2 separate regions of the Homo sapiens genome follow, and region 1 is linked to region 2. A link means that fine-mapping ties the variant in region 2 to the expression of a gene that starts in the linked region. Tissue or cell type: whole blood. Region 2 holds a variant in brackets; the other region holds the start of a gene. All regions are shown on one strand. Distances are from middle to middle.

Region 1 (2,685 bases), 350 kb before region 2:
TGAGTGTTTGTGTTCCTCCAAAATTCACATTGAAACTTAATCTCCAGTGCAACAGTATTAAGAGGTAGGGCTTTAGGGAAGTAATTAGGCCACGAGAGCTCCACCTTCATAGATGGGCGCCGTGCAGCAGGGGGCGGCGCTCGTTGGGGAGGCTTGGGCGGCACAGGAGCCCACGGAGGCGGGGGTGGGGGTGAGGCTCAGGCATGGCGGGCTGCAGGTCCCGAGCCCTGCCCCGCGGGAAGGCAGCTAAGGCCTGGAGAGAAATTGAGCATAGCAGCTGCTGGCCCAGGTGCTAAGCCCCTCATTGCCCAGGGCAGCAGCGCTGGCCGGCTGCTACGAGTGTGGGGCCCACCGAGCCCACGCCCACCCAGAACTCCAGCTGGCCCGCAAGCGCCACGCGCAGCCCCGGTTACCGCTAGCGCTTCTCCCTCTACACCTCCCCGCAAGCTGAGGGAGCCAGCTCTGGCCTCGGCCAGCCCAGGAAGGGGCTCCCACAGTGCAGTGGCGGGCTGAAGGGCTCCTCAAGTGCCGCCAAAGTGGGAGCCCAGGCAGAGGAGGTGCCGAGAGCGAGCGAGGGCTGTGAGAGCTGCCAGCAAGCTGTCACCTCTCACTAGTTTATTCCCTCTCTCTGGCCTGAGACTTTAAGAGCTACATTTCTGGCTCTAATCATTAGGAGTATCCATCTACATTGACTATACTTTATTTTGTCTTTAAGACAATACTTGATTCTTTTCTACTTTCATTACAGTGACACACTAAACTTTTACTTTATATTTTCCTGGTCTGTTTTTTGTATTCTCTCTCTAGGATGGGCTGTAGTTAATTCCAGTCACACGAGTATTTGCAGAACATTGTCTTACTTTGCCCTAACTTAAGTAAACCCCAAATATTATAAGAGTTTAGAAAAGCTGTGCATAGAGGGGTCACCCACTATTCCATGGTTCTCATTTCCACTTTGTTTCTCCAGGTCACATCTGAATCATTCCAGACAAGGTCCTATACCTCATTAAGCCTCAGCACCTTCAGGAAGCTGGTGATTCTGAGTTGAGAGTCCCCTTGTGAGGAATACATGGAGAAAAAAGTAATGTAGCAAGTACAGAGCTTGAGCTACCATAGGCACTCTGAGTCTCTGAGTCTCTGAGTCTGCAGAGTAAATGAATACAATGTAATGCACTGGAGATGACCAGCAAGCTGAGTTTTCCGTGTTTGTTTCAATAAGTATCTGGGTCCTAGGCCTCATGATTGTGATTGTTGCTAACCACCTTTGCAGGAGTGGCTACATTAGAAACATCTCCCTGGGTGTTAGGCTGGCAGCAAACTTTGGGGAGTGGTAAGAACAGGAAGTTAATTCTGTGACTCCTAGGACACTCCTCTCTATGCTTGGGGAAGGAACTTCCTGTAAGCAAGGCTTGAGGCTTGCTCTCGCCTTCGTCAGCAGCCCTCCTCAATCTTCTCCAAACTCCCGTCCCCAGGCCACACAGATTCTCCTCAAGAGAGCCCTATAAGGACATTGGTAAAATGTCACTGCCTTCAGGACACACTACGGGTGAGTTGGCCAGCATGAGGCTGGAGTCTCAGGTCTCACAGGGCAAAAGGGACTGAGCCCCCTTCCCCACCTTACCCTAACCCACATAACACCCAGCCAATCTCCCTTTAGATGGGGGTGGGCAGTGGCAAGGGCCCAGGCCTGAGTCTTGTGGCCTTCTCAGGGCCAGGGTTTGAGGTATGAGGAGGGTCACCTGAGGCAGGGGTTGGTAAAAATTAACATTCCTTGGATGTACACTAGAGGTGGTAGTGGGGCAGGGAATACATCTTTAATCTTCACACTAACCATTCAAGGTAGATTGTATTACCTCCCACCCCAGCCCCAGAAATTTATCAAGGCTAGCCTTATGGCCCAGCATATGACTTATTCTGGAATGTTCCATGTGAAGGTTTTCTGTGCAGTGTTCTATGTCATTTAAGCAAACTTATTACTCATGCCATTTAAATCTTCTATATGTAGCTGAATTTTTGTCTGCTAGTTTTATCTGTTACTCAGAGAGGTGTGTTAAATTCCCACATCACAGTGGTTTTAACTATTTCTCTATTTACTTAGATCAGTTTTTGCTTTGTATCTAAACATAGATTGGTCCATGTTAAGACATGCATACAAATTTAGAATTTCTTTTTTTTTGTATAACTTGAAACTTTATTTTTAAAGTATTCTGAAATTTTTTCAATAATTTTAACCAGCACTTACTTCCCTTAAGCACACACACATTTTTATCTTACAATTATAAGCCCTATTGCAGTACAAAAAAAAACAATAATTCTACTAAGTTAGCCAGCCAATTAATTCTACTAAGTTAGCCAGCCAATCAAACTATGTCCGTAAATAATCATGTTACAGCCTAGAATCAAACAAAAAATTCTTCTAGTTCTCTTTAAAGATATTTATCATTAATTTTTTCATAAAACCAAAGTAATTGATCCAACAATACTAACAGTTCTAGCATGCAACAGACCATCTAATATCTAATGTTTAATCTTCTTCTTTTTTTTTTTTTTTTTTTTTGTGATGGAGTCTTGCTGTGTCGCCCAGGCTGGAGTGCAGTGGCACAATCTCGGCTCACTGCGAGCTCTGCCTCCCGGGTTCACGCCATTCTTCTGCCTCAGCCTCCCGAGTAGCTGGGACTACAGGCA
Region 2 (2,685 bases):
TATATAACACTTCTGGCCTCCTAGTACTCCTTGTGGCTTATCTTCCCATTTCCTGCCCCAATATCTACCAATTACCTCATAGGCATAATCCTGGCTCACCCCACCCCATCACTTGTACACAAATGTGAGGTCAGAGGTGACTAGAAAGATGGAAGACAGTGGCACCAAGATATGATCTGGTCTAACCCACTTGGCAACAGCCTTTCCATAACCCCAATCAACGGGGGTGCTCACACATAAACCTACCTTGAATCCAAATGAATAGTTTTTGTTCTTTCTTAATTAACTTCCAAGTGAACAGCTACATACAGATCTCTACAGGAACCTAGAAAGAAACAGACCTAAGGATAGAAAGGAAGGCAGAGGAAAGAAAACAGAAGAGACTAAGATGATCTAATGCCTATAACAAGGATTATAACATATGCTTTTGAATATTCAAGGCTATGTTAAATGTCTCCCACCTGTCTGCTCTTCCTCAATGATTCCCTAATCACCCCAAGACCTGCAGCCTGATTACACCTCCTGCCAACTTTGAAGTCAGTCATTTTCCCAATAGAAGTTACAGCTCCTTTCCTGAACCAAAAAAAATGAGGTGCAGAAATAGGTAGTGGAACATAGGCAATTGTACTTACAAGGCAGGCAGGGAACATAATGGAGACTGTTATTTTAATACCATCTGTGCATGTCCTTCCCCTTCCCCATGCATACCTAGATCCTACTTTATTCACCACCTATGTCAGCCTGCTTATACAGCAGGAGTTCTCAGGAGATGCTATCCTTCCCACCAAAGAAGAGTCACGCCCTACAAAAAGAAGGCGGAGCAACTAGCAAAAAATAACCCCAAGAGACTATGTTAACAATGGTAGAAAAATAGCAGGTTAATGGACAGATTCCCAGAATTCGGATTCTAACACCTCCTTTTTGAGAATCAGAAACTAAGTAAATAAAGTCTCCCAACTCTCATAGCTCCTCAGATATCCACCATCAGAAATGCCATGAATTCTTCTGTGGGACTATTTCTGCACCAAAATGAGAGGGTCTGTGAGGAGTGGCTGGAGATGGAGTTTTGGTTTCCAGAACCATAAACTGAAGAAGCAGATTGACTTCAAATGTTCTAAATTGACCCTTCAAAAAGATTACCCCTCTACTCGGAACCCACATTCTCACACATCATTACATTACTTAAAGTGGATCAGCATGTTGAGAAAACAGATCCTGAACAAGAAAGGTGGAAAAATACTACCCTGTTATTTACATGGACCACTGTTGTGAAATTCGACTAAGTCCACACCCTATTTGCTTGCACAAAACTGGATGTGGGGATCTAAATATGTAAGGCAATAAAACAGTGCGGTATTATAAAAGGCGGTTAAACATTTCATTTTAGTGTCTTCATAATTCACCCACTCAAAGTTCCACTTTTGGAGAACCCAACAGACCTATCACGCAGACAGGAGACTTTAACAACCACCTGGAGCCTGTGGGAAGGGACAGCACCCAAGACACGGGGTCCCACAGGCCCCTTTCCGGAATCAGGGCCCCGAGTAGCGAACGCGGCCCACCTCTCGTGGGCTGGGCACAGAGCTGGGACGCCGGCTCCCCCCGGCCTTCCCGGGAGCCCCCCACAATGGCTCCCGCTCC[G/A]CCATTTCTCCCGCAGGAGCTCCCCCACAGCCCTTTCCGGGCACAGACACCGTCGAGGGCGGGGCGCCGGCGCCTGCAAAGCTGGCTTGGAGGCGGTCAGCGCGGTTCTCCTCCAGACGATCTGACGGTGCCTCTCAAGCCAGCCCCTCAGCCCTTGGCCTGGCTCGGCCTGCACCGGTCACCGCCTCCCCATCGCCAGGGGTCTCGAGCACTGCGCACCTCTCTCCGGCGACCGGCTCCGACCGGATCGTCTCCTCCTTGCCAGGATGTCAGGGTCGGCGGGGCAGGCTGCCAGCCGGTCCACCCTGGCGGACCACCCCAAGCTCACGCACCCCCACTTGCCTTCAGAGGCCCAGGGCCCAGGTCGTCGACCTCCCCCTCCTCTCCTCAGCTCTCCTCTGGCGGCTCCTCACTTCGATTCTCACCGCTTTCCCCGCTATCAGAATGGCAAAGACGCGTCCCGCCCCCCACGCCTCTGCACCAAACTGGGCAGGGGCTGCGCAGGATGCTGCAAGAACCGCTCTCTCCGCGAGGGTGTCGGGAAGGGGGGCGGAGGGATACGGCGCGAAAGTGCTCGACGCCCCCCTCTCAGGCCCACCTTAGTTCCGACCCAGAGGTGGGCGGGGCCATGACGAGCCCCAGCCTGGGCCTGCGGGTTGGCACCAGGCTGCCTCAGGAGGACCCCCGCGGACCCTAACGTGGCGACCACCACCACCACATTTCTGGCGTTGCTATAATATAGGGACGGGCGGGCGGCTGGGGACCCAGGCAGGGGACAGGATCAGGAGGTTGGGAAGAGCCGCGCTGGAGGGAGCAGCGGATGGATACCAAACCGCCCCTTGGTGTGTCTGCACCCCCGCCCCAACTCCCCAACCAGGGACTGCTGGGTGTCTGCCCCTTCCCTCTCCCCAGCCCTCTCACTCTCCTTCCTGGAAGCTAATGGGAGAGGGGGTGTCAGCAGTGCAGTCTGGGAGGGGTGAGGCGATTTCAGGCCAAACAAGCCTGGGCCTCTAGGGTGGTCCTCTTGTGCGTTTCTTTCCCAGC

What was found. PIP is the estimated chance that this variant, and not a neighbour inherited with it, causes the effect.
Region 1: NXF3 starts here. The variant in region 2 is fine-mapped to the expression of NXF3 in whole blood (TOPMed, PIP above 0.99).

What each region holds. Positions count from the first base shown.
Region 1 is chrX:103,091,857-103,094,541 of GRCh38, reverse strand. It overlaps NXF3 (nuclear RNA export factor 3), which reads left to right and starts at 1,399. Exons shown (of 20, transcript NM_022052.2): 1 at 1,399-1,546. The coding sequence starts at 1,519.
Region 2 is chrX:102,745,473-102,748,157 of GRCh38, reverse strand. The region is part of intron 8 of ARMCX5-GPRASP2 (ARMCX5-GPRASP2 readthrough); the gene reads right to left. GPRASP3 (G protein-coupled receptor associated sorting protein family member 3) reads right to left here. Exons shown (of 4, transcript NM_001142524.2): 3 at 247-341. Among named protein-coding and RNA genes, the nearest start is that of LINC00630, 22 kb to the left of the region's middle. RefSeq lists a silencer at 1,691-1,740. The variant G/A (reference allele first, on the strand shown) is at 1,642.